4 separate regions of the Homo sapiens genome follow, and regions 1, 2 and 4 are each reported to be linked to region 3. Evidence: microRNA targets listed by miRTarBase, many of them from high-throughput screens and not tested one by one. Region 3 holds a microRNA gene; each other region holds the end of a gene's coding sequence.

Region 1 (7,118 bases), not on the chromosome of region 3:
TTGGGGATGAAGAATAAAGAACAGCTAATGCAGACAATTTGAAAAGAGAGCAGAGAAATGGGGTAGCTGGAAGGGGATGTGGAGTTATAGAAGGGTTTTTATTTAAAAGATACTAGCTTTAGAGTAGATAGGCAGATATGAACAGGGCAGGACAGCGCCACAAAGACTGTGAGGGCTGGTGACAGGGAAGGGAAAATCTAACAGGAGACATCTTGAGCTCATGGGCAACAACTTCCCAATAAGAATTTAAGATGGCAGAGTTTGGCCTTCCTCTGGGGGCATGACCAGACATGCGCAGTAAGGGGCAAAATGACAGAGTTTGACAAATATATGACCTTCCCATGGGGCTTGGCCGGGAGTGCTAGCCCAGTAAGGGAAAATTGCCCTAAGAGAGCATGTGCATAACTTCAATCACCAAAAGGCCCTTCCAGATACTGGCAAACCACTGCACATACAGGGAGGGAAGAGATGGGGAAAAAAATAGGAAATAATAAATCTCTAAGAGCCCTAAGACAAAGGTCAAGCTGGGTACTCAATCTTTTGACGTCCCCCTTCGTTCCATCCAAGTGTACTTTTTTTTGCTTCAATAAACTCTTGTTTCTGCCTTAAATATAATTCTGTCTCTTGGCTGAATTCTTTCTCCCAAGAAGACAAAGATCAAGGACTATGGAGCGTGCCCATACTCACCACTGGTAACACTAGAACTTTTGAAATGATATATTTTGGAATTATGCCCGCTTTTTTTTCAATAGATAAATATATTTTTCTAGCAGAGGCCAGAGGTTTCGTTTAACTATGTAAACATGTCCTAATCATAATTTCTTGAGAATACAGACATCTAAAAAAGATTTTATGTTAAATATGTAGTGTTTTCCCATCTTCATTTATTTGGTATTTCTGGTTAATTGTCTGACAGTAAAGGAGTTCACAAAAGAAATCTGAGATTCCACATTGAAATCCTAAATGTAAAACAACAACAACAATAACAATAAAAATGGAGAGAAACAGAATCCCTGCATCTGATTCTTGAATCCTTAGGAAATATTAAAGGTGAAAATGAAATTAAATTTGGAAAATGATATTTAAAATTGTATATTATTATTTCAAATTTAAAGATTTATTTCCTCCTACCCAGATATAGTAATGTCCTCTGTAGTTCAGAAATCTTATATGAGACCATTAAAAATGAGGACCTAACTCTGCCCCATGCTACTCAGAGGAGCAGGTACTGTGTGTAAATGCTGTGGTAAGGAGACTACATACTTTATCTCTGATATTCACAGAGACCCTATGAAGGAGGCACTATTTAATCCTTGTTTTTCAAAAAAGGAATCTGAGTTATGTCAAATTACAGGAATGGTAGATAAACCCAAGCAGTATGACTCAGAGCCCACACTCAACACTGTACAATTCTTTCCGGTAGAAATTAGGTCAGTATTGTTTTCAGAGTTTTGGGGGCTTCAGGGGATTTTTTTGCTTAGCTATTAAAAAGAATGTGTCTAACCTGGGCGGGTGCGGTGGCTCATGCCTGTAATCCCAGCACTTTGGGAGGCCAAGACAGGCAGATCACCTGAGGTCAGGAGTTCAAGAGCAGCCTGACCAACACGGAGAAATCCCATCTCTACTAAAAATACAAAATTAGCCAGGCGTGGTGGAGCATGCCTGTAATCCTAGCTACTCTGGAGGCTGAGGCAGGAGAATTGCTTGAACCCGGGAGGCAGAGGTTGTAGTGAGCCGAGATCGCGCCATTGCACTCTAGCCTGGGCAACAAGAGCGAAACTCTGACTCAAAAAAAAAAAGAATGTGTCTAACCTAACTTTGAAGGATTAAAAAACTTTCAAGATGCCGAAAGTGATATTATTATAAAAAGGTACTGTGAACTAAGGGGAAATTTCATTGTCACACCTTATTGTGACTGTCTAATCTCAGAAGTTTTCTGTTTTAAAATGTCACTGTTGAATTAGCTCAGTTGATTGTTCATAGTCAGTTACAGATTGAATTTCTTGTTCTACTCTTTTCCCCCCTTCTGACTACTGCACTTGAGTAGTCTAAAAAAAAAAAAAAAAGTCACTGTCTTGATTTGGGCCTTCAAGCAGTTATTTTACTGTTGCCACTAAGCAGGGCCAAACTGGTTCATCTCTAGTCCCTTGGTAGCCTTCCATCAGCAACAAAATTATGAAACCAGCAACAGAGCTGAACCTAATGCCATCCCAGTTTCTTCACCAGTGCTCCCAGCCCTAAGTTCATTGCTTAAGAGGTAAAGGACAAATAAGTATTTTCATGTAGGTTGAATAGGTTGGATCTGAGGACAACCCATACCAACTAGAAACCTATTAAATTCCACCCACTTGTCGTAGGGCTCATCTTGGTCACCACCTGAAATGGAGACTGATAGTTTCAATCATGGTCCACTTAGTAAAATAATAACAAAGCCTGTTATCTTAATAATATAAGTAATTAATTAAACAAGTGTTAGAGAATTGGAAACATAAAAAGAGCCAGGAGGTAACATAAAACCATCCACCACATATACACACACACAAAGTTAACAGTAGTTCTCTTCTGGTAGTAAGATTATGGCTAATTTTTCTACAAGGCATATATATTTATTTACACATATAAATTTTTTTTTAATGTAAAGCTTAAGTGAACACATACCTGATCCCACCTCCATTAAAACAAATACCACCACTTATGTTAGAGTCTAACAGTAATACTTACTTTTAAGTCAGTTACTGCATTAGATAGTAGGAACAGAATTCTCTAGAAAATGGTTATATGGCCTATGAGATTTAACCACTGGAGTTGCAGGTTCAAGAAGAGACTGCCAAGGATTCTAACACTGGCACCATTAATACACCTCTCTACCTAAGGAGCCCCAGAAAAATCACTTTCCAGGGACAAAGAAGTCCTTAAAGTGTATATGGAAGGTTTCACATCTTAGCTTCAGTACCTTGTATCAAACACCAATATTTTTGTTTGCCCCACCCCCACCCCTGTGACCATTTTTTTGAGAAAATGCTGTATCTATCCACATGATCACTGACCAGAGCAGCCATTATATAATGTGACTGCGTTACCTGAGACAAGTTGATTGGTGAAGGGGTGGGCACCTGACCCAAGCTGACCCGTCCCTGGAACTGAAATCAAGAGATCAGGTCTCTTTGGGGGATCAATAACGTGTAAAACTTGGGAGCTACAGGTGGCCATGGAGCCAATATGCATTGAGGGTCAGAGCCAGAGCATTCGAATCTCACCTGAGGTCTGCTGCATTCCTTCCTCGGTTCTATGAAATATGGTAGCTTTCCTCTAACAACCCCGCTTTGGGGTTGGGTAGCTCAGGCAGAGATGCTAACTTTGTAATCAAAACAATTCTAATACTAACCAATTGCTCTTTCATTATTAAAGCGTTCATTATTATTTACTACCGGAGTTGGGCTATGGAAAGTGTTTCTATTCTTTGGAGAACAATATAAACTTTTAGCAACCCACTCTCTCCTTTGCCAATCTTTGAAGAAAAGAAAATAGAATAAAAAATTTAATATTTCTCAAGTTGAACAAAACCCTTTCCAAGATTTACATTAGGAGAAATCATTATTCTGTACAAGATTTTTCTGGCCCTAAATATTACTTAACACATTGTTTGGATTCAATAACAATAATACATGAATCCCTTAATATTAAATTTATAACTTAGAAACACATTCATCAGCCTCAAAGACAAGAAACAGAGGTGAAAGTCTTCCAAAATAGTCAAAATGTGACAGTATACACACATTAAAGTATATACACTTCACTCATAGAACGCCTTTACCATGAGACTACACACTGTAAGCAATTCAAGCCGGGTGATCTGGCTGTAAACCCACATCAGACCAGAAGCTAAAATCCTAGAAAGAATCAATAGTAGATAACCTTATATTAAAGGGAGTATATTAGTTTTCTATCTGCTGCTATAACAAATTACTGTGATTTAGTGGCTTACGACCAACACAAATTTATCATCATAAAGTTTTGTAGGTTAACAAGTCAAACATATTCTCACTGGACCAAAATCAAGGTGTCCACAAGACTTTGTTCCTTTCTGGATATTTCTTTGTCTTTTCTGGCTTCCAGATGTCCAATGCACACTTTCCAGCTTCAAGAGACTGTCCACATTCCTTGGCTCATGACCTCCCCTTCCTCCCAGCAACAGCAAGTCAAGTCTGTCTCACACCTCATCACGCTGACATCCTGATCTGCCTCTCTTCCACTTTTACGGATCCGGTGATCAATTGGGCACACCCAGATAATCCAGCATAATCTATTTTACTTCCATCTGCAGCCTTCATTCCCCTTTGCCACATAACAACACAGTTACAAGTTCTGGAGACTAGCACATGGACATCTGGACATCTTTGGATGGGCCATTACTCTGGGCATCACAGGGAATAAACAGGAAAACCAGACACAGGAACTCCAACAGTCATTCAGGCCACTTTGTACAGGGACAAATATTTCACTCTACTGGAATAGTCCCAGGGCTGGGGAGTCGGGGTTAGGGTGCTGGACATCACATACTACTGCCCAGGAATAGACTGACAGTCTGAATCAAGATGAGGTTTAAAGCCTCTTTTGGTAAGAGGCTGGAGGGTTCCCAAAAGCATTTTTAAAAGGCTGTTACAAAAATACGGACCTCTTACTACAGGAAATTTCATTTACCTGGAAAATTGTACAGTGAGCCTCACTACCTGGCAATGCTACAATTTAACTTAACTGAATGGTTACCTCATCTACTTAACATTCATAGCTACCTTAGTTAAGATAAGTCGAATAAGTATCTTAAATAAATAAATTTTTATTTAAGAACTGAAAAAGACTTTTTTGAAGTTAATATTTTAGAAATATTTAAGCGTTTATCATAAACATTCACATACATTTATCTCTGTAAAGTGGCCCAAGAACAGTTATTTCCCTTATTTAGAAAAAAATTCAAAGAAAATGGCTAATTAAACTTTGATTTTATTATGTACATGGATACTATTAAAAAGGTGAATTCGTGAAATTTTAAGATTGTGTATAACACATAAAAGTCAAACTTCTAATTTGGTAAGTAAATAATCCTAAACTTAACACAGTGGTTCTTTAAAATGTTTAAATATTTGTCTTAGATGCTGAATATAGACAAAGAGAACTGTCATCTTAGGAGTAAACACACTATAACTCTGTAAAAAGAAATCATAGAAAAGTAAGGTAGTATTTCTCAAATAAGTCCTCCCATGCTAAAACCACAGTGACGCGCAGACACTAGCCTAGAACCTATTCCAGTACTGCAAGTACTGACAGGCTGCAAACACCAGTAACAACCTGCCTGGAGCCTTGACCTTGAAAACAAATGGCTGTTGTGAACTGATGTGACCAAACCAAGAGATGGTTCCTTACAAAAACAAAGCAAAACACAAGATGAAAATCAAGCAGAAAAAGAAAATAATATAACCTTATTTTGAGAACACGACTTCATCTCAAAGGATACTTTTTGTATATTAATCCTCACAGATTAATAAGAGCAGTTAAAATAATTTTGTGTAGATCCAGAATACAACAGGTGACTAAGTTAATGACTAACACAATTTACAGACTTCAAAATGATAATACTGAATTCCAAATTTCACAGCATAACAGATGACTATAATATACTACCCTAATCAACTCTTATTTAGTGTCTATACAGCATCTACAGAGCTCTTCATCCATCATATTTCTCCTCTTAGACTTTCTGTGTTCATGACTCATTTTCATCCATTTCTGTCGGAGAACTGCTTTGGGAGGAGCAGAGCGAATAAGTGCCATACTCCGGTATGGGCCTGTGTGGTGGCCAGTTGTTTTCTTGCAAGAGTGATCTTGGAGATAAAATAAATTGAGTCTCAAAAAATTCCAATGACTCGCCATCTTCCTTCTCCATCAGAAACTGATACTCTCCGAATCTGACCATGCACCTGTATGGCAGGTCCATTTTATTTAGGTAGCCCAGCTCTCTGCTGTCCACGATCAGATTGGTCTTTTTACTCATATTTTTTATTTCAAAGGAGAGAACTGAGCTGTTGAATTTTTTAAACAGCTGCAGAGAAAACTGAACTCGGGAAACCTGTTTGTCCTGAAAAGTATAATGACAGATGTTGGAATTTCGGCCAAATTTCACCACTTCGCTGGAAGGGAGTTTCTCTCTGTTAAAACTTATTGACTGAAATATTCCACACTGCAACTGGCCAGGATGGTAAACCGTCATCTGGAGACAAGTTACTGTCTCTTCTGTGTCAGCATCTTCAAAACTGGTCATGATGTGCACAAGGCCCACCTGCAATAATTAAATTACCATGTTAGTTTCTGCTTATGCTTGAGGCATTGAGAACTTTGATTCTAACGTTTTGATGAACATCATCTGATAGGCAATTTATCTGGACTTTAAGAAAACAGTACATAGACAATACTTTCAGTGAACTAGTAGATATGTGAAATCTTATACCAAGCCCTATAAAATTGCTACACTAGCTTCTCCTATCTTTTTCATTTCTAGTTTGACTATAACACCATACATAAAATGCAGACAATAACAAAGAATGATTTTTGATAATAAAATGATTTGAGGGAAGCATAAAGAAACCTCAGTTCCTCTTTCACCTAAATAGAGTGACTTGAGCCCAGAGAAAATATGACAGGTGTACTTTAAAAAGAAAATTAGGAAATAAAAAATCTCTTTGGTTTGAATACCTTCAGAGGATATATACATAAAGCAAACATAGTTTATTAACTGGATTATAATTAAATATATTATGAATTGTGAAACCTGGTTAAAGAAAAAAACTTAATAGTTATAAACAAACAATTGTAACATTTATCCTTTATATCCTCACTTTGATTTCTAACAGGTAAATGATTAAAAATAGTAAATGCTTTAAATGGTTATTTTATTCTATAATTTCAAATTTTAGACATTACTTTTAAGAATATAAGTCTCCATGAGTTGGTTCTAATTATCACAGCCTGCACTGGTATCAGAATTATTTATTTTTGTCAGTGGTACTCAATGACTGGATGGACAAACTGTCATTAACTACAAATAGCACAGTCCAACTGTTGTT
Region 2 (7,118 bases), not on the chromosome of region 3:
AGGCCAAGAAAGGCATTAATGAGACCCAACTTTGCACAAAAATAGACATTATCACCCCATGTTTCAACCTACTAGCCCAAAGTTCCAGAAGTGGTATTTGTGGACCCTGTTGGGAAAAAGTTGAGTGAACGATGGTTTTGATCGACTGCCATAGTCATCTACTCTTCAGTGCCTAGGAATCTACTTCTCCCTCTCATGAGAGCTATGCATTCATTTATGCAGGCATTTATTTGTCATTGGCATTTCTTGAAATGGATGGGTGTGTAGGCTTTTACTGTAATTTATGAATAATTTTAAATAATTCCAGCAGTACTGCCTCTTTTAGGGTCACCTGTTTCTTTCTTGCTTTTTTACATTTTTACACATTTAGCAATGAAACAGTGGGGAAGATGCTTGAGATATCACCACTGGAACTCCTCTCATTGCTCTACCAACCTTGGCCATAGATGATTCCAAGAAGGAGGTCTGAACAGTCAGGCTGAGGCCAGTGTGCTGCTTTCCAGCAGTAAGAATCCACAAACACCCTCACCATTGTGAGCAGGTGGTTGCCTCCACCCCGCTATTCTACTGCAGACAGTGACAGCTAGTGTCAGGAAGATGTAGCAATCCACTGTGCTGCTGGCCTCCCAGTGGGAGGGCTGGACCAGTGCATTTCTTAAAGCCAGTGACCACACAGGCAGGTTCATCTGGGATGGACCACGTCTACACCTGTTGTCCAGGCATCATTACTGAGTGCCCACTTTCACTTTTGAAAGTGTTAACAATTGGATAATGAATTGCATACTCGGCCCACTTAATGTCCCCTTGTAGCTCTGTCATCTATTAGGTGACCTAACATTTACATTTTTAACCTATACCAGCAGTTTGAGGCAATGAGTTCAGGAAGATTATTCTCCATTGTGTGAAGTAATATTTACCTTTATCTGTCCTGAAATTATCCTTCAAGCGTTATGGGATTGGTCCCAGCTTTAATGCTGAGGCTCAGTGAACAAGCTCATTTGCATGCTTTTACAGATTTTAGTTTTGTCCACACCAGGCCTTTGTCCATCCAGATGGATGGCCCTAATCTTAGAGCCTATTCGCAGAGACCTCCACCCTCTGATCATTAGCTTCCCTTGTTAATCAGGCTGTAGTAGTGTTTGGAGGCAACTTGTCTGAAAAGTGATGCACAATGGTTTGTCCTTTCAGGCACTGATGAAAGGCCGTCTGGTAGGGGAAGGGCTTTCCAGCTGTATTATAATTTTTTTTGAATTAAATGTTTTTTCTTTTTCTTTTTTTTAAGCATATAGAGAATGAAAGGAACCTGCCTAGATGGCTCATAGTGAGCCCTCTGTTTATGCTTGCAGAAAAAAGAAAGAACGAAAAATAAACAAAAAAAAAAAAAGAGAAGAAATCAAGGAAAAAAGGAAGAAGGAAAAAAGAAAGATCAGTGTATATAACTAAGAAGGAATATTATAAATTCAAAACACTATTTGCAGGAGAAAACAAAACAAAACTTTGCTTTGTTATTTCATACCTCAGGCCTGAATTTGAAAGGCCAAATATTGTAAGCGATTGTAAAAAATTCCCTAGAAGGGTGCATTTAAGTGGACATGGTGATTTCTTCCTTTCCAAGATGCAGGAATTTTACAGAAAAAAAAAAGTACTCGAGAGTAATAGAAGAAGAAAGGAACATTTTGTAACAGAATATCTTACCCTTGTACTTTGTATTTATGGTTTAGAAGCTTGATTCCCTTAAAACAAGATGTATGAGTGCCTTCCATGTGCAAGGTGTTTTGCTGGGCACTGAAAATATATAAACTGGATCTAATTTCAGCTCTTGTTATTTTAGACATTACGATTTGTTTTCTTGTGGAACATTAAGACAATATAATAAATTACAGCCTTCCTGCTGAATTTTACTTGTTTCTATTTTTCTCTCATGCTAATAGTCATGAGAATCACTCAAGTGCTTCCTTCTCTTACCATTGCAAGGACTTTCAAGTTCTTTAGGAAACCCGGTTCTTTCTCTTAAGAAAACAAATCTTAATTCATTGGGGAAACATGACATACATTTATTGTATATACAATCTGAGCCCCAATCAATTGGAATTGCTGCACATTTGGACAGAGGCTGGGCTGAAGTTCAACTTTATTTCATCTTTGATCAAAGAGCTTACTAAATGGAAGTAAACAATACTTTAGAGAAAGATTGACATTTTTTTCAAGGAAAAAAACTGATTTAAACTGAGAGTCACATTTCTCAAGCAAATTACTTATGTTAAGTACATGCTATTCCAACTATTTATAAAAGCAGCTCATGATGGATCTCAACCTGAGAGCACTTTATAAAGCACTTAGTGTCCTACAATTCCTTTTTTCCTGAAAAATGAATGTTTTTCTTTAAACATTATTCTTAATATATAACTCAGACACACAGTCTTCTTGGCTCATTTAATTTTTGAGGTCTGATTGCAAAAACTGACAAGAACATGTAAATGTATTTATAATCTAGGTACTTATGGGGATAGATTTATAATCTAGGTACTTATGGGGAGTGACAGCAGTTAGTAGAGGAGGGATGATTATAAGATGCTGTGTAAGTTCTGAGCAGAAATCTGAGCAATCTCTGCTTTATAAACATTGCACTCTGGAAGAATGCTCATCCGTTAAGTCTGTTGTGTGCCAAGGCCAGCATACACAGAACTTTCTTCTTTATGAGAAACTTTTCCTTGGGGGTAAATTTATATTGTCTTACATGTGTTTTAAATGTGGGCTTGAAGCCCCAGAGTGTTCTTATGTACCCAGATAAATAATTAACTTTGCAAACTATGAACATGTTTAATTTGGCTTTTGAAACTATACTTCTGAGACCAATTGTGCCCTTCCTAATTTGGAAATATTTTCTTTCTGGTTTTTATTTCGACATGTACCCAGCCATCTACTTTTGTTGCTATTTCTAGTATCCCAAGGGAGCTGCTTCCACGGTTGTCATAGTGCAGACAAACACAAAAGAAAACCAAGAATTCGGTGCTTTCATAAAGCATTTATTTTTATTTGAAAACATTATACAGGCATTACATTGCCACAGCCAGTCCATAGGGGAGCATGCAAATATCAAAAATGGACAGTTTGTTGAACTTATCGGTGTAACTTTTTTTTGGTTCGTATTTTCCATTTGCAGTGTTGTCAGAATTAGTGTGCTTTGTTATGTGGCTTAACAATAGAATCCTACCCATGGGGTAAAATCTGTACTGGTAGCTAGCTGGGGACTACTAAATAGTTATAAATCAAAAAGAAACCCAAAACAAACAATACTACACGCTTGTCAAAAGGTTAATAGCACAAGTTAGCAATATCTAAACTAAACATTGAAACAATTTCATGGGACACGGTGGTGCAAATTTTTCCATTGCTTGATCACCTGGTCATGTATTTGAGAGTATGTAGATGTGGGAAGGTCTGACCAAGGCAAGCGCTGTCCCCAGTGCAAGTTTTCATTGAGGAAGTGAGAACCACCACTTAATCTCTAGCAGGGTTCAGGAGAATTGTGGTTCGCTCTTACCTGATCAAATTCTATATAAATTGCTAAAGTCTTATTCATTGAGGAGAGATTGGTGGTGGAGTTAGAAACTGAAAATTTTGCTGGTGTCTACTGAGGTTATGAAATCTCAGAAACTAAAACAGCTAAAGTTAATGTTGTCCTACTCCCATTTCCCGCCCCATTCCCAAAGGATCAGTGTTTTTTACACAGAAAAAGAATTTGTTCTTTGCGATTTTTTTTTTCCTGGAGGGTCAGTCTGGAACTCCTGATCTTGAACAATTCAATATATTATCAACCTTTCTAAATGGAGACAAACCAACACATTGAGGTCACCCAGGGACATGAAAGTCTGAGTACAAGGACACCGAATGATAAAGGGTATACGGCAAATTCATCTTAACATTCACACTTGGTTTCCATACAATGGAGTCAATTAAAATATCCTATAAAATAATTCAGATGGCAACCTTTAGCCATCTGTTGATTGCAAACTTTTTGGAAATTTATATTTTTAAAAAACTCCAGTCTACTGAGTGGACTTGGAGATAATTTCATCCACTTGCTTCTCATAAGACTTTACTAAGTGTCTACAAATTAATGTCATAAAAATGAATCAAAGATGAAAACATCTGGCTTAAAATAAATACTAAAAATGCAATAAATCAAGCAAATTATTCAAACCAAAGGAATGTAAACACAAAAATAAAACCACAGTCTTTAAAGGTCTTCGGATCTGAATGGACAAAATATTCAGAGAAAGGTATTTAATTGGTTTAAAAGGTAGCAGAGAGAAGATGTTGGCAAAGTTGTTTTGATTTGATAGAGCTTTAACGCTGATATTTTCCCCATGGAAAATAAAACATGTTTCCTAGGGGGCTGAACTGAGATGACCATTACATCCGAATATCAGAGAAGATAATTTTTCTTCTCTATCTCCAAGGGTAGGTCCACTTACCCGTTATAGAAGGCAGGCAAAAAGGCCATGTGGGTGCTGACAGACAGTGTGGGATGCTTTTGCCTGCCAGATTTAGGCCTTGTACAGGCACTCTGGGATCAGTCCTTCTACTGTAGTCTGTCCTTTTACTTTCCAGAGACCCCACTGGTGTTTTGCTTTGCTTGCTTATGTAACACATGTTGATTTGAATTGCCCAATGTCTCATAAACATGTATTTTTCCCCTATAAACCCTGTAACTCCATTGAGGATCTTTTTGAATGGTATTGAAGTCAGTCAAACTAAAAGAGTACATCACATACTGACACATAGAATCTATTCTAAATAATAGAGGTCTGTGGTGTTTCTTAATTTCCTGTGTTTGAAAAAAGGGCTATTTTAAGGGCAACAGATTAGACTAGTGACATATCACTCAAGGTCTTATCAGGATCCTGCAGTATTCTCTGGGTCCATAAGAATGTCGTGTCGGCCGGGCGCAGTGGCTCACGCCTGTAATCCCAGCACTTCGGGAGGCCAAGGTGGGCGGATCACGAGGTCAGGAGATCGAGACCATCCTGGCTAACACGGTGAAACCCCATCTCTACTAAAAATACAAAAAATTAGCTGGGCGTCGTGGCAGGTGCCTGTAGTCCCAGCTACTCGGGAGGCTGAGGCAGGAGAATGGTGTGAATCCCGGAGGCGGAGGTTGCAGTGAGCTGAGATCGTGCCACCGCACTCCAGCCTGGGCGACAGAGTGAGACTCCGTCTCAAAAAAAAAAAAAAAAAAAAAAAAGAATGTCGTGTCAATATATCTGTTATTGAATGGATGCCAAATATGACCAAAATGCCAGACTTTTTCAATGATGACATTGTTACCACTGCAAAGTGGCCAAATCAATTAAGCCATTTTCAAAGACTGCTCCACATCAGCACCTTGACTTTGTTAGGAGGTGGCACAACCAATGATTTTCCACAATAAAGGTAATTTCCATGCTGGTGTATTTTTAAAAAGGTGTCACAGAATTAAAAGGGCAGAGGACCATGGCTTTTTCCAGTGCCTTGATTAATTTCCATATTATCACTAAGGAAATCTGGAAAAAAAATAAAAGATAGTTTTTGAAGAGAGGCTACAGGGAGGAGCAGAAAGATTTTATAATTATATATTGTCCTAAACACAAATGATATTATTTCTGGGGGCTCCCAAAAGCCACAGTAATGGAACAGTCCTTATCCTGTTATTACAGGGACTTGATTAGCAGAATCACGTGGCACAACAGAAAGGCAATGGCCTGGAGTAATCAGAGATCGAAATATAAAAAGGCTAAAATGTTTCTTTTATATCTATTCCTAGAATAGAGAAGTATATGGTCAGTTGCCCCTCCCCACAAAGGTCACAGCACAAAATACTTATTGAGCAGGCAATCCAACAGGTAACAGAGGAAACCATTAACCACCAGGTCCCTAGGAAAAGGAAACTTCTCAGGGGTGGAGCTCCTGTGGCATGCATCACTCATATAGTCTGTGCAAAAAAATAAAGTATGACTCTTAAAAAGTGAATTGCCATAGAAAAGTGGGGTTTATGTTGACTACATGTGGGTCTGGCAATAGTTTCCATCAGGAGTACAAAACATCCTCCTGAAAGTTGGTGTAATAACAGTAACAGCAATAATAATAATACAAATCATAATAACAATAATACTTGCTTTTGATTCAAAAATTTTCACAGTAATGAATGCAGGGGAGTTGTGATCAGGATACACGTTAGCTAGGCATCCTTCCAAGTCAGGTGGATTAGAGCCTGTGTCTCCAGTGATGTTGAGCTTGTTCCTTTCACAAGCTTTTGGAGGATTTGCTACCTTGCAGTCCACCTGTGTAAACTGCACCTAGTAAATACCTTTCTCTATGTACAATACAGAGATGATGGGCAAAAACATGGCCAATGAGTTGGCCTCAGTTGGCAGGGCGGGCCTCACCCTAGGCCACACGAACATGAGGCTCCTCTTCGGTCTCCTGGCCCAGGCTGGTGTAGGTGACTGAGGGTTCCACCTGAGCTGTGGTCGGTAAGTCCACAACAGGTCCTGAAGGATTGCGGAACTGCTTATACACTCGGGGGTCCTGGGCTATGTAGGTGGAGGTGGAGGAGTAGAGCACCAGCCCAATGAGGATGGTGAAGAAAGACAGGAGATAAAGTCCTGAAAACTAAAAAAACACAACAGTAAAGTCATTTGACAGCCAGGGCAGAACCACTGACACATTAATGAGGCACACAGAAACATGAGCAGAGCTGCTTCTTCTCAGAACAGGCAGCATGATGAGTTGGCCAACACCGTTGATGGAGAATGAATTTTCTCATCATAAACTGGCTTGGTCCTATTGATTCTCCTTATCTTTCCTAGACCCTGTGGCTAACACAGAGGAACACTTAGCTAATCATCTCTAAAGTGCCAATCTGAGGATCTGGTATGGTGCGAGAACTAGTTAAGCACAAATTAAAATGCATCAAGTTAAAAGCAAAAAATCTCCAGTATCAGTCAATAAAAAGTTGGTTGTTTGTGGCTTCATTAAACCTAGAGAAATACAGATATCCCCTTTAGGGTTGTAATGAAGCCATAAACAATGAACCGCTCACTGACAGCTGCATCAGGGCACTCTCATTTCACCTT
Region 3 (7,118 bases):
CCCTGTGACCATCTGGGCCCCAGAGCCAAGCTGTGTCCCTGTCCCTCTGTGCCCAGACCAGGCCTGCCCAGGTAACCCAGACCCACTGTTCTGGAAAGAGGCCCGGAGGGCTCCCAGGGTACCCGCAACCCACACCGTGAGCTCAGGAAAAGGACGCAGGGAGGCCCCGGCCAGATGGCTGGAAGCCCAAATCAGGCCCTGCCGACCTGACCATGTCCCACCAGGGCCCCCATCCTGCACCCTGCCAGGCACCACAGCAGTGGGAGGCCAGGTGGGGGCACACAGGCATATGCCCAGGGCAGAGCCCGCCGAGGTAGGGGTGGCACCCAGCTTCCTACTCTGCCCTTTGCCCAGTGGGTAGACAGCATCATGACTGTCACCAGTACCAGGGACAGAGCCCAGGTGGGGTGGGGGCGGGGTCCAGCACCACGGCCAGCACCGACCACCAGGACCCCGGAGCCAGCACCATGGACAGAAAACTGCCCACCAGGATCTGACGCCAGCACGCCGCCAGGCCCACACAGGGTCTCCGGTCAGAGTCCCAGGGTCAGCTCCCAGCAGGGCCTAGGGGAGGCTGGACCAGCTCCCTGTGCCTCATTCCAAGGCAGCCCAGCCGGAGAGAAGGGGCACAGGCCACACATCTGTCCCATAAAATTAAACGCTTTTTAGTGTTTAAAATAAGCAGCATTTACACAGAAGCAGCTCTATGTTAACCATCTAAACGCTGGGACTTTGATACAGTATCTACAGCACAGACACGTGGGGGCCAGAGAAGCCAGGAAGGCCGCGATGTGTGCGCGCAGTGTGTGCACTCACCAAGGACGGGCCACCTGACTGCCCATCTCCCCAAGACCTCCCTCCCTGTGGCAGCTGTGCACATCGGGGCCCCTTGACCCTGCGGGCCATGGTCCCTCCCTGCCCTGGCTGGGACACGGTGGGCAGGATGTCCAGCCCTCTCTCGTCTTCCGGTCCCGTCCTCCACGTACTTTCAGACTGTTGCCGGATGGGAGGAGAGAAGGTGCAGGCTGCTCCAAGGGGCAGCAGCAGGTGGGACAGATGACAGGGTCGCCTCCTCCCCCGAGTCACCGGCCAGGCAATAAATAAATAAATTAGATCCCTACTCCAGACAGGGGGCCTGTGCACCGCAGGGGGTTGCCCCGCATGGACCACCCTGGGGGCCTGGGCACAGCTGTGCAGGAGGTGGGGGTCAGCCGAGAGCCCGAGGGGGTCTTCCTCATCCCAGGAGGGATCCCCACCAGACACAAGGGGTTGGGAGGTCCGAGGCTCTCGCTGAGGGGCAGAGAGGGAGCGCCCCCAACACGGCTGCTCAGACACAGGTGCTGTCAGGAGCTGGAGCAGCCAGGCTGCCAGGGCAGATGGTGGTGGTCCAGCCTGCCCCCCACCCTGCCTCCCGTCCTGGCCCCCACGAAGGCAAGCCCACGCGAGCTCTGCATGCGGCAGGACCGCCAGCTCCCCACCTCAGGCAGGGCTGGGGCATGCGCCACGAGTCACATGATGTCCACGAAGAACTCGCAGGGGTTCCCCATAGCCTTCTGGAAGGACTGGCGGCTGCCTGTCAATTCCGGGGGGACGGCAGCCAGCTCCCGGACAGGGGGTCCCCCGGGTGGCCCCCCCACCACTGTATAGGCCTTGGTCGTGGGGTGGGGCGGGGGGAGCCCCGGGGCGGTAGCCGAGGCCTGACTGCGTGGGCTGCTGCCACGGCTGAGCTGGCCGGCCGGACGCTCTCGCCAGCTGCTCCCCACCCCACTCGGTGCCGTGTGATCCGATTCACTGCCACTGCCCCCAGCTCCCGCCGCCCGACGCTCCTTCTCACGGCCCGGGGCCCGGCGGCTGCTCCGGGTGGACCCACTGCTTTTGCTCCCTGGGAGTGAGAACAGGATGGGGAAGGAGCCTGTCAGCACCAGGCCCGGCCACGTCCAGAACAACCGCCCCCGCCAGGTGACCGGGCAGGAACGGTGGCCCGTGCAGGACGGGTGGGTGGGGCAGCCATGCAGGCGCGAGGACAGGGCCGGCACCCCCAGGGTCGCAGGGGCAGCTGCGGCAGGCATGGGCTGGTGGGGGCAGTGGGAGGCAGGCAGGGTCCTGGGGCAAGCTGGGCGCCCCCACACCTCACCCCGATGCTTGAGCTGAGGGCCTGGTCTTGCGGCTGAAAGACTGAGGTGCCAGCGAGGGCCCCTCATGCCCGGTGCCCCCGTGGCCATCCTGGATTCCCCACCCAAGGCCCCACTGTCCCCCCGGCCCAGGACCCTGGCCGACGGATGACTCAGCTCAGCCCTGTCCTGGGCTCCCAAGACGCAGTGGGAGCTGGAGGGCGTGGCTGGCTGGGGACATGCTGAGGGACCCCGGGCGGGACCCTGGCTTACCGGCCCAAGGTCCGCTCCGCTAGTCCTTCAGTCTAAGGCTTGTTTAGCACAAGACAAGGGATAGCACGAGTTACACGCCCGGCTGCCTGGCACCTGCCCAGCACCCACCCGCCACCAGTGGGGACTGACCGCGGGCTGGGCGGGGCTGAAGTGGGCGCAAGCGCCGGTCGAGGGTCAGTAGACACCCAGCGTGGCTTCTCTGCGGTCCCACACCCTCTGGCCGCCTCTCCTCTCTCGCCCTCCTTCCTGGGCCCTCCACGAAGCCACCTGCACCCCTCCCTGGCCTGCAGACGCCCCTGCTGGCCTCACCAACCCCACCCACTGGGGCCTCTGCTCCACCAGGCAACACCTCAGGAACACTCTGGATCCCCGGCCCCTAAACACACCCCAGCCAGGGGCACAAGGCTAGGATGCACGGCACCATCCACGTCAGGCTCCCTACCCGGGCTGCAGCTGCCACCCTCCTGTGTCCTGGGGCCTAGAAAGTGACCCTGTCAGACTCCTTGGCCACCCCTGCCCTGTCCTTGTCACATGGCCCATGGCCACATGGTCTCAGGGCCTCCTGCCTCTACCATAGGAGAACCACCAGCCGCCACCCCTACCAGGCACAGCCGCCCAGGCCGCCAGGCTCCTGGAGGCCCCTCATCCCAATCCCACCCAGATGAGGTGGGGTCCAGGCTGCCCCTGTGTGAGACGCTTCCCTGTCCTCCCCATTCACACTGGCTCCTGGATCCCCCTGGCACTTGCCTTTTCCAGAAGGAGCCCACCCAGGGCCCAAGTACACAGCAGGAGCATGGGATTGGGGTCAGCAGAGAAGCAGGGCGGAGCAGCAGCGGGGTGGGGTGGAGCTGGGGGTGGAGCAGCAGCGGGGTGGGGTGGAACTGGGGGCGGAGCAGCAGTGGAGTGGGGCGGAGCTGGGGGCGGAGCCGGGGAAGGGCAGGTAGGGGCGGCGTTCTCACCTTCACTCTGCTGACTCCCGGTGCTGCCGCTGCCATAGCTAAAGCCCGGGTCCTGGTAGGCAGGCGGGAAGCAGGGTGGGGGTCCCGGGTACTGGTAGGGGTAGCCCTGACCCAGAGGCCAGGGGGCAGCCGGGTGGGGCAGCGGGGCCAGCGTGTCCTGATCCGAAGTCCCACTGGAGCCACTGTTGAGGTTCAGGGTGGCGAGATCTGGCGGGGGAGGGTAGGTGAGGGCCGCGGAGGGGCCTCCGGCGTTCCCCTCCCCCCCGCCCTGAAGCCCGAAGCCCCCACTCACTGCTGCAGAGATCCCCGAAGACGTAGTAGCACTGCTCGGAGAAGGTGATCTTGTTGACCGTGTGCCGCAGGAAGCCGTGCTTCAGCAAGCTGCTGGCGTACTTCCGGGCCTCCCGCCGCTCCTTGAAGCCCTCCACGTGTGTGTACAGCCAGTCCACCACGTCCGCCCCTGGCCGGCACCAGCGGTCAGCCCGCAGCCTCGAGGCAAGCAGCCCTGCCCCTGGCACTATCCGCCCGCGGGGACGGCCACTCACCGATGACGGCATTGGCGATGGTGATCTTGAGCCACATGCGGTCGCGGATCTCCAGTCCCGAGTCTGGCAGCTGCATGACCCGGACGACGGCGCTCATGTCACTCTTCACCGTCAGCGGCGCCTCTTCCAGCTCTGCAAAGCACAGACAGCCCCGCTTCAGCCCCAGCATCTGAAGGCGGGGGACTCAGGGCCCTGCACCCCCAGGGGAGCCTCTGGGCAGAGCCTGCGCCAGGGCGCAAGCTGGACGGTGCGTGACAGCAGGGCCCCGGCCCACTGCAGGATGCACCCCCGTGAGGCTGGGGCGTGAGCAGGGGGGTTGGACATTTAGTCTCCCACTTCTACAGACACTTTTCATCAGGATCCTAGGCACAAACTGGGCTGACACCCCACCCTGCAGACCAGGAAGTAATGAGAACAGGGCAGGCCCCTTCCCCTCCCCGCATGCCCCACCCGAGAGCGCAGGCTGTTAGTCGTGTTAATGGCAGGAAGCAGAATGGAGACCTGGCCCCTGCCTCTGACGCCGTGGGTGCTCCCCGCATAGGGGCCCTACGTACATCCCCTGTTCCCAACACACAGACCATGAGCAGGATGGGCTGCACAAGGTGGGCACGGGTGCCTGTGCACACGTCTGTGCAGGGAGTTGGGGACAGGCAACACACACGTGTCACAGCCCCATGACGGCCACAGGCGGCCATGCTGGAGGCTGGCAGAGACGCCCCCTCCAAGCCTCGGTTTCTGCTGGGGCCCTCAGGAGCTGCCACTTACGTGGAGCACCAGGCACGGAGCTGGTTAGTGAGGAGGAGCTGGTGCGCGTGACGGCGCTGGAGCAGGGACTCGTACCGTAGCGGGGCAGGGCTCCTGTCAGTGCCGCCGTGTGGGACAGCCAGGCGGCGGGGTCGATGGGCCGCACCGGGTCAGCTGGGTGGCCGCCACGTGGCGATGACAGGCGGACAGATGGACAGGGTGGGAGGGCAGGGTGCAGGGCACAGAGGAGAGAGGCCTTCAGGCTAGGTAGGCGCCCCCTCCCCATCCCGCCCCGTGTGCCCCGAGGGCCACTCACCCCGTGGGACGGTGAAGTAGCTTCGGGGCGTTGGGTCCCAGCACTTGGCCACAGTGAGGCTGATGGGCCTGCAGGAACGGTGGTCACACAGCAAGGCCCCCATGGTCCCACCTCCCTGCCTGGCCCCTCCCGCTCCAGCGCCCCCAGCCCTCACCCCGTCTGGGAAACGATCTCCCGCAGCACCCGCACGGCATCGTCATTGCTCATGTTCTCAAAGTTCACGTCATTCACCTGCAGGGGTGGGGATTAGGGTGGTGCAGGCAGGATGTGCAGCTCAGTCCACCGCCCCCGCAGACCCACCCACAGCCGCATGTCCCCCAGCAGCCCCCGCAGACCCACCCGCAGCCGCATGTCCCCCAGCAGCCCCTACAGACCCACCCGCAGCCGCACGTCACCCCAAAGTCCCCACGGACCCACCCGCAGCTACATGTCACCCCGCAGCCCCCACAGACACACCTGCAGCAACATGTCGCCGGGCTCGATGCGGCCGTCAGCGGCCACAGCCCCGCCCTTCATGATGGAGCCAATGTAGATGCCGCCGTCTCCACGGTCGTTGCTCTGCCCCACGATGCTGATGCCCAGAAAGTGATGTCTTTCTGCAGGAAGAGCCATGAGCCGCGGCCAAGCCCCTGCCCCTGCCCCCAACCCTCGCCCCGAGGCCTCACCCATGTTGAGCGTGACAGTGACGATGTTGAGGGACATGGTGGAGTCGGTTATGCTGCTGAAGGAGGAGGCCTATGGAGGAGAGGGGGCGTGTGTAAAAGGCACGGGGCTGCCCGACACTGACTTCGCCTCCCCAGCCCCGCCCTGCTCCACCCGGCTGCCTACCCGGTCCGCCTGCCGAAGGCGCTGCTTCCTCCGCCGGCGTTTGTGCTTCCGGATGAGTCTGGATGAGGTGCTCTGCTCCGTGGAGCTGCTGAGCCTGGGAACAGACTGTCAGAGCTCAGAGGAGCTGGAGACATGGGTAGGGGGGTGGGAACCCGCTCCCCCAATACTGAGTGGGAATCGGGGGTCTAGGCCAGGCTTGTTCCAAAGCAGGCTCAGTGCCTGACGTCCACGCCCCAGGCCCTGCACACGTGATATGCATATGAGCACACACGAAAATCCCAGAGACAGGCAAACTGGGCACAGACACATGTAGCCAGATCCACTACTGACACACCTGCACACATGCACACCTGCACACACATGCACACCTGCACACACGCACCCCTGCACAAGGCACACATGCACACACCTGCACACACACCTGCACACACGCAACCCTGCACACATGCACCCCTGCGCACAGGCACACATGCACACCCCTGCACACGCACGCATGAACACACGCACACCTGCACACGCATGCACACCTGCACACACGCACCCCTGCACACTACACACCTGCACAGGCACACATGCACACCTGCATACTCACCTGCACACGCACCCCTGCACAATGCACCCCTGCACACACGCACCCCTGCACACACATGCACACCTGCACACACGCACCCCTGCACACAGGCACACCTGCACACACCTGCACACGCACGCCTGCACATGCACACCTGCACGCACACCTTCACATACACCTGTACAAGCACACCTGCACACACGCACATCTGCACACGCACACCTGCACACACGCACACGCACACATGCACACACCTGCGCACACGCGTGCATTGTGAAAACGCTCACGTGCACACTGTGAAAACGCACCTCACACACACATACATGCACACACAGACATGCGCATCATGTACATAAACGTTTGCACACAGGTACATGCACAGACACATCCGCAATGTGAAAACGCCTCACACAGACACACATGCACAAGCAGACACGTGCATCATGTACACGTTTGCACGCGGGCACACACACAGGCGCGCACACACGTGCACAGTGAAAACACCTCATGTGGAACACGTGCACAAGCACACGTGCATCATGTACACAGACATTTGCAGGCACACACATGCACACACACGCACACACGTGCAATGTGAAAACACCTCATGCAGACACATGCACATCATGTACAGACATTTGCAAGTGGGCACACAGGCATACACGCCCACAGACACTCCCACACACCTGCTCGTGCTGCCATCCTCGTCCGAGTCCACAAAGCTGCTGGACTCAAGCTCGCTGCTGAGGGCGGTGGACGCGCTGTCTGGGG
Region 4 (7,118 bases), not on the chromosome of region 3:
GACTGGAGGGAAGGTTCCAAGTCCAAGTTCCAGGAAGGGTGGCCAGGGAAGTCCACGCGCCAGCAGTGATGATAGTGGACCTCAGTTGCTTTGCTTTTGTGTGTGCCTGTCCAGTGTTCATTCTGCCTCCTGACATCCCTCATTCCCTTTAGGCTCTCCACCTCCTCCCCTGATTCAGTTTTGGTGGAACTGCTTCCCTGGCCAAAGCTCAGGGGCCAGTCAGACCCTTCTCCCCAGGACTTGGGCGCATCACCTCCTCCTGGAAGCCTTCCCTCGGCTGGGGCAGGTGCCTCTCTTCGATGCCTGAGTTCCAGCTGTCAAAGCACTTATATGCCAGTATGTTTATCTGCCCTCTCCTTCACCCCGCCTCAGCCTTGAAAAGTGCCTGGCACATGGTTGGTGCTCAATAAATGTTGGATGAATGATGCCTGTGTTGCTTAGAGCTGAAGAAGGGGCTTGAATGTTAGATTAAAAGATTCCAGAAACTCTTGTGGATGTTCCATAGGATGTGGCTGCAGCTTCCAGGCTCTCCAGTCTAATTCCAGCCCATGGCCTCTTCTTATTGACCAGGGCGCACTTACCCAAGTTCGCCTTCCCTGAGTCCCCACTGTCCCGCACCTATGCGTCAGGCCTTTGATCCTGCCCAGTCCCCAGTTTTCCTGCCCTGCCTTGTGCAGAAACTTGAATGTTAGGTTGGGGTATTGCCTTGAAGGGGCCACAGAAAGAACATTTACTTTAGAGAGTCACCACCATCCTCAGACTACACCTTGTAGATTTAGAAACCTGGACACCATTTGGAACGATGTTGCAGACTGTCAGTGTTTGCCTCTGAGTCTCATTTGTGTGCAGGCAGATTGTACATTCTTTCTTTAGAAATGTCAGTACCTCTCAGTCCAGTCTGACTTTGGCCTTAGGTCATTCTGACATGTAAGGATAATTAGCAGCAGAACCAGGAGTCACAGCTGGGCAGCCCAACCAGAGAGTCCTTGCTCACCACCTCCACACTCCACTCTACTAACTCACAGTGTGTTAGAAGCACACTGGGGTTCTTTTCTTGTGCTGAAGAGGTTTAGACTGTTAGAAAAATGTAAGTATGAGTCAGGCGCAGTGGCTCTTGCCTGTAATCCCAGCACTTTGGGAGGCCAAGGCAGGAGGATCATTTGAGCCCAGGAATTCAAGACCAGCCTGGGCAACATAGTGAGACCCTGTCTCTATAAAATAAGATAAGAAGATAAGATAAAATAAAATAAAATAGTGTACGTATGTTTCTAGGATCAAATTCTGAAATCTGTCCTCATTTTTCCTGCCAGGAGGAGGAGGGGGATTAGAATAATTACAGAATATTACAGACTATAGTTTGCAGTTTAAAAGAAATCAATAATATTTGCTAATCTTAGAAACTGTAAAGATAACTGCTAGTAGAACAAACAGAATGTGTAACCTTCAAGCCAGTGGATAGATCAGTTAAGGTTCTTGGTTGCAAATGACTCCAGCCAACTTCAGCAGAAAAAGAACTTATTGAAATGCTCTCAGTAGCTCAAATATCAACAGGAAGGCAGGAAAAACTGGCTGAGAAAAAGGGCGGAACCCAAGACAGACTGGGCAGGATACTGCTGTCAGTGCTGCTGCCCCTGGACACGCCTGCCCCTGTTGTTGTGCGTCTTAGTGTCACTTGCTCCAGATACAGGTCCCACGTTGGGTCACCCAGCTGGCTTGGTCCATCATGTACCAATAGATGTCAGCAGTGGAGAGTGTCCAGAACTCTTTCACCCCTGTAAGTGGGAGACTGGGCTTAGTCTTCCACTGAGTCACACAATGAGAGATTCCCCCCAATAAGAAAGGAGTTCAAATGCTAGGGTGTGCCCCCTCTCCCCCACAAGGCAACTCCTCTCTACAAGGAAATTTGGTATATGTGCTGCTGAAGCCAGCACGCTACAAAGAAATTTGGAACAAGAACCTGATGGATCCATTAGAAGACAAGAATAGGGAAAGGGGAAGACTTGGAGAAGTGTACAAAAATGAGATAGGCTCCCAGATGCCAGGAATGATCTGGAAATGCCACCTGGTAATGAAGAGAACAGATGTGTAGTGCTACACACTTTACCTTTGCTGAGTAGATGCCTAACAGAAGGAAGGGTAGGCATATGCAGCTTTGTTTGTTGATGAGACTAATCTTGGACTTTCAATTTTCAAGGAAATTAAGCCTTTTTCTGAGAAGGGAAGAATTATTCCAGTGTACTCACCCTCAGGAACGCTGGCAGAGTAGGGTAGATGAACTGATGGTGGGATCAGAAAAGAAGTGAAGCTCAGAGGAGGCTGATGGATTGGGAGAAAGCCGTCTAGAACCTGGAAGTCTAGATGAGGTTAAAGAATAAATATGGCCGGATGCAGTGGCTCCCGCCTGTAATCCCAGTACTTTAAGAGGCCAACGGTGGGCAGATTGCTTGAGCCCAGGAGTTTCAAACCAGCCTGGGCAACATGGCGAGACGGTGCCTCTACAACACAAGAAAAACAATTAGCCAGGCATGGTGATGTGTACCTGTGGTCCTACTTGAGAGGCTGAGGTGGGAGGATTGCTTGAGGCCAGCAGGTTGACTGCTGCAGTGAGTCATGTTTGTGCCACTGCACTCCTGTCTGGGTGACCAAGCAAGACCCCATCTCAAACAAAAATAAAAGAATAAATGTGTCATAGGAGCAGAGAGCAGGATAGAGGCAGTAGCAGTCAAGAGCTCACACTTTCTGAAATGGGAGAGCACCTGGAGGCACAGGGAGTGAGGATGTGACCAAGGGGCTAGGAGACTGGGGTGGGGTCTCCAGAGCTGCAGGAACCATCAGTAGCTGGCACCCAGAGCAGCAGTGGGGTCACCCATGGACTCTGACGTCACCCAGGAAAGCAGCAGGAGTGGAGAAGAGGGGAAGTAGAAAGGGCCTGAACTCCACAGGAGGAGGAGGGATATGGTGACCTCAGTCGGAAGGGGAGGTGACTTGAGCCCCAGATGAGCTAGATACTTTGAGAAGCATGGAGGCCTCCTGACCTGGGAGTAGCACTGGGGACCAAGGAGAATGCAGCCCCAGCATGACCGGTGTTTTTGCCAGGTCTTGCTTCTGCCCTTTCCATTGCCATCCCTGTTTCTCAAGGGGTGAGTTCAGATCTGCTATTCCCGTTTTCCATGGGAACCAGTGACTGACAGGACCTGTTGCTGACGTGCTGCGGAGACATACATGGTGCTCACAAAGGGGCACCCTTCTTTTTTTTTCTCTTTTTTTTTTTTTTTTTTTTTTGAGACAGGGCCTCACTCCAATTTGCCCAGGCTGGAGTACAGTAGCACAATTTTGGCTTACTGCAGCCTCGACCTCCTGGGCTCAGGTGATTTTCCCACCTCAGCCTTCCAAGTAGCTGGGACCACAGGTGTATGCCACCACACCTGGCTACTTTTTGTGTGTGTGTATTGTAGAGACGGGGGTTTCACCATGTTGCCTAGACTGGTCTTGAACTCCTGAGCTCAGGTGATCCACCTGCCTTGGCTTCCCGAAGAGCTGGGATTACAGGCATGAGCCACCATGCCCGGCCCAGAGGGCACCCTTCTAACAACCCCACTGCCCGTCTGCTTGCTGCCTGCACATGGAGGCCCTTCATAATGCTGTCCAGGGTGCCTCGAGCATGAGGTGCCTCTGACTGTGGTTGAAGCAGGCCTCTGGGAGTCCAGAGCTGGTCTTGAGAAACAACTTCAGGGTCCAGCCTGCAGTTTGGGATCCGGCATCTCCCCCTCCCACCCCAAGGCTACTTCCCTGGGAGCTCAGGGGCAGCACTCAGGTGCTCACGGCTCTGCACAGCTTTTCACAGGCTCCTTTCTCTGCAGAATCTCCCTGTCCCTGCAGTCACTCCCCTCCCCTATCCCCCACCCTCCCCCAAGGCCCACTTCTTAGGAGCTGTCCCCACTCAGGGCTTGACTGTGCATTCAAGTCAGGGCAGGCTCAGGGCCCCCCACTGAGGAAACCACCTCCGCCAACCAGCCTCCCCTCAGCTCCCTCATCCACTCTCTGGCCTCCACGAGGTCCCCACTTCTCCCATTTTCTCCCATTGTCCTCAGTGTCCCCACTCCCCACCCCCAGCCTCTGTTGCTCTCTGTCCGGGAGCCCCTGTGCTTCTCCCAGAACTTGTCCACTGGGCAGGACTGACAGGCAGGACGGCTCTTCCTCCCCCGAGCCAGGGACTTAGTAGGCAGGGGGCATCCAGGCCTTCCTGGCCAGCATCTGGGAATTCACCCAGATGGTTTATGCAAGTCCTACTCCCCCAGGGCTGGCCAAGGCCCATCAGAGTGGATCCCATGAGTCAAATGAGTGCAAGCGTGAGCTTGGATAGAACATCCACTGGACAAAAGGCCAGATACAAAATTGTCTATGTGTATTGTGTATATAAAATAAAACCACCATATGACACATCACTAGGAGGAAACATGCCACTGTTACTGCTTCAGAGTAAAGTTATGGGTGGTTTTAATTTTTTCTTTCCTTTAGATTTAATCCTCTTTTTATAAAAATTGTGGTAAAATACACATAACATAAAATGTACCATCTTAACCATTTCAGTGTATAGTTCAGTATTGTTATGTATATTCATATTGTTGCACAACTGATCTCCAGAACTTTTTCATTTTGCAAAACTGAAACTCTTCACCCATTAAAGAACTCCTCACTTGCCCTTCCCCCATTCCCTGGCAAGAGAGGTTTTACATTTTTAAAATTGTTTTCATTTTTGCTTATTTGCACTTTCCAAATTTTCTATCATGAGCATTTATTATTTTTATAATTGAATTTTTAAAACTAAACATCTGCAACCCTGTACCACGTCCTCCACTTTCTCGGCAGGGAGCATGAGCTATGGGCATGAGCTAGGAAGCTGTCTGCAGGGAGAACCCAGACAGACCGACCGAAGGTCATCCTCCAGCTCCCAGCCTTGGAAGCCAGGGCTTCCTCTCAGGAGGACAAGACTCAGGGACTGCAGCAGGACAAGTTTCCTCCATGAACTGAGTCCTGGCTGAGCAATGACTTGGCCTGCAGGGATTCAGAATGGGGCTCAGTTTCAAGGACTACTTGTCCCTGTCCCTCTTCTCACTGCATTGAGTTCGGCAGAACCCTCCACAGGGTCACTCCTTGCCCTTGGTTGGCCATGTCTCTTGCCCTCAGAGACCCTCTGGCCAGCCAAGTCCAATGCTCTGCTCACTGGACTCCCGAGCCAGCCTGCACGTATGTGAGGACGGAGGTGGGCTGTGGTGGTGGGGTCTGCTTGCATGCTGGCTTTGCCCCACTTGTGCTGGGAGAGGCTGGGGAGGGCATGGGGAGGTCAGGGAGGAAGTGGGGCTTGGGGTTGATAAAGATGCAGATAATAACTTCCGCCCTTTCAGTCTGAGGGTATTGTTGGTTTTATTATAAGCAGTGGCTTACACACACACAGAAAGAAAACCATAGCTAAAGTGCCAAAGCATGACACTGTGGAAAGCCAGCGCCTCTTTCATTTTTCAGGCAAGGAACCAAGGCCTAGAAAGGTGGACTGATTGGCCGGGTGTGGTGGCTCATGCCTGTAATCCGAGGACTTTGGGAGGCCGAGGTCGGCGGATCACCTGAGGTCAAGAGTTTGAGACCAGCCTGGCCAACATGGTGAAACCCCGTCTCTACTAAAAATTAAAAAAAATTAGCTGGGCATGCTGGGGCTCACCTGTAGTCCCAGCTACTCGGGAGGCTGAGGCAGGAGAATCGCTTGAACCCCGGAGGCGGAGGTTGCAGTGAGCCAAAATCGCGCCACTGCACTCTAGCCTGGGCGACAGAGTGAGACTCTGTCTCAGAAAAAAAGAAAGGTAGACTGATATGCTTGATGGTGCATGACAAGGTGGTGACAGCAGGGCTGAGATTGGAACCAGGTCCCCTGGATCCCTGGGCCCCTGCCAGAACCTGAACAGGAACTGGGAAGGACAGTGAGGACCCAGTGGGACCGTTTCAGAAACTGGCAGTGGTGGCAGGGAGTCCCCAGAGGGAGGACTGCTGAGCCCCAGCTAACTGTGATATTTCTGCAGGGTAAGGATTTGAACTGGGGGAGTGGCAGTGGACAGATAAGAAGCACAAGGTGTGGCGTCTGGTCAGTGTGAGTCCTCAGCAGTCAGGGATCCCTCCTCCTGCTGTTTCCCTCTGAGGGAAACTGAGGTGCTGGTCAGAATTTCTAGGCTGAACTAGGGACAGTACGTGAAGGCATCCCTGCAGAGGAAGGCAGATGTGTCTCCCCAGCTCCAGGTGACCCTCTGGCCCCTCCAGGTGAAGCCACTTTAAGGCTCCACTCAGGATGGATCGGTCTCTTGCTGCGCCTCTGGGCCATCGTTCCCAGCCAGGGGGTGGACCCAGCTGCCCAGGGAGCCCACATCACACAGGGTGCTGCCTGTGGTCATCCTGCTGAGGCTGTGGGAGCTGTGGCGGGGTCTGAGGCGATGGCAGCAGGCCCCGAGGCACAGGGCCTCCTGGAAGGTCTCTCGGAAGCGGCTGGACATGAGGCTATAGAGCACGGGGTTGGCCGCCGAGCCCAGGTAGAAGAAGATGCCGGAGATGACGTGCACGTGCTGGAAGGCCAGGTGCAGGCCATCTGTCCACTGTGACACGACGCTCCACATGACGCGGTCGGCGTGGAACGGGGCCCAGCAGATGCCAAACACCACGACCAGGACAACTGCAGGGACAGAGAAGGGAGGCCGAGTGCCCGCCCGAGGCCCCTCAGCTGCCTTCCCGGGCTTCAGTTTGGGTCACCCATTTTCACATCCTCTCCTATCCCACAGGCCACCCTCACCTATCACCCAGGTGGAAGTTTCTGGAAATTTGCCTGTTCTGGCCATGCCTCTCTCAGAGAGGCTGCCCTCACCATGGTCACTGACTGTGGGCAATGGGGCATATCCCTGCCTCTGACCACAGCCAACTGGACCAGGTGTGGACACCTAAGCCCAGCCGGCCCAATCAGATTCTCTCACCCTGGAATATGAAATTGGGTGACACTTAGCTGTGGCTGTTGAGCTTCTGGGGTGATACAAGCTGTGGGGCTAGGGCCACTCTGGATGCCCACTTGGGGGCCATGCTTGCTG

What was found. The annotated mature microRNA hsa-miR-6808-5p reads CAGGCAGGGAGGUGGGACCAUG and lies in region 3 at 5,049-5,070, opposite strand. An mRNA with a match to its seed (bases 2 to 7 or 8) in the 3' UTR can be bound and repressed. Matches are read on the target gene's strand: a 7mer-m8 pairs with bases 2 to 8, a 7mer-A1 pairs with bases 2 to 7 and ends in A, and an 8mer does both.
Region 1: the mRNA of TIFA is a reported target of hsa-miR-6808-5p. The part of its 3' UTR that is shown has no 7-base or 8-base seed match.
Region 2: miRTarBase lists SLC35F1 as a target of hsa-miR-6808-5p. Seed matches in the 3' UTR shown: 7mer-m8 at 5,127-5,133 and 7mer-m8 at 4,489-4,495.
Region 4: the mRNA of NMUR1 is a reported target of hsa-miR-6808-5p. Seed matches in the 3' UTR shown: 7mer-m8 at 5,744-5,750.

Annotation. Positions count from the first base shown.
Region 1 is chr4:112,272,101-112,279,218 of GRCh38, forward strand. It overlaps TIFA (TRAF interacting protein with forkhead associated domain), which reads right to left. Exons shown (of 2, transcript NM_052864.3): 2 at 2,437-6,334. The coding sequence starts at 6,316. The coding sequence ends at 5,762. It overlaps AP1AR (adaptor related protein complex 1 associated regulatory protein), which reads left to right. Exons shown (of 10, transcript NM_018569.6): 10 at 1-1,010. Among named protein-coding and RNA genes, the nearest start is that of TIFA, 10 kb to the right of the region's middle.
Region 2 is chr6:118,313,564-118,320,681 of GRCh38, reverse strand. It overlaps SLC35F1 (solute carrier family 35 member F1), which reads right to left. Exons shown (of 8, transcript NM_001029858.4): 8 at 3,011-6,654. The coding sequence ends at 6,430. Among named protein-coding and RNA genes, the nearest start is that of PLN, 230 kb to the left of the region's middle.
Region 3 is chr1:1,334,634-1,341,751 of GRCh38, forward strand. It overlaps MIR6808 (microRNA 6808), which reads right to left and starts at 5,075; the gene lies at 5,017-5,075. TAS1R3 (taste 1 receptor member 3) reads left to right here. Exons shown (of 6, transcript NM_152228.3): 6 at 1-681. It overlaps DVL1 (dishevelled segment polarity protein 1), which reads right to left. Exons shown (of 15, transcript NM_001330311.2): 5 at 7,034-7,118; 6 at 5,777-5,870; 7 at 5,614-5,683; 8 at 5,405-5,544; 9 at 5,103-5,179; 10 at 4,949-5,016; 11 at 4,654-4,806; 12 at 3,889-4,020; 13 at 3,636-3,803; 14 at 3,344-3,550; 15 at 645-1,882. The coding sequence ends at 1,509. RefSeq lists a silencer at 3,311-3,370.
Region 4 is chr2:231,518,714-231,525,831 of GRCh38, forward strand. It overlaps NMUR1 (neuromedin U receptor 1), which reads right to left. Exons shown (of 3, transcript NM_006056.5): 3 at 4,474-6,712. The coding sequence ends at 6,330. Among named protein-coding and RNA genes, the nearest start is that of LINC00471, 7.9 kb to the left of the region's middle.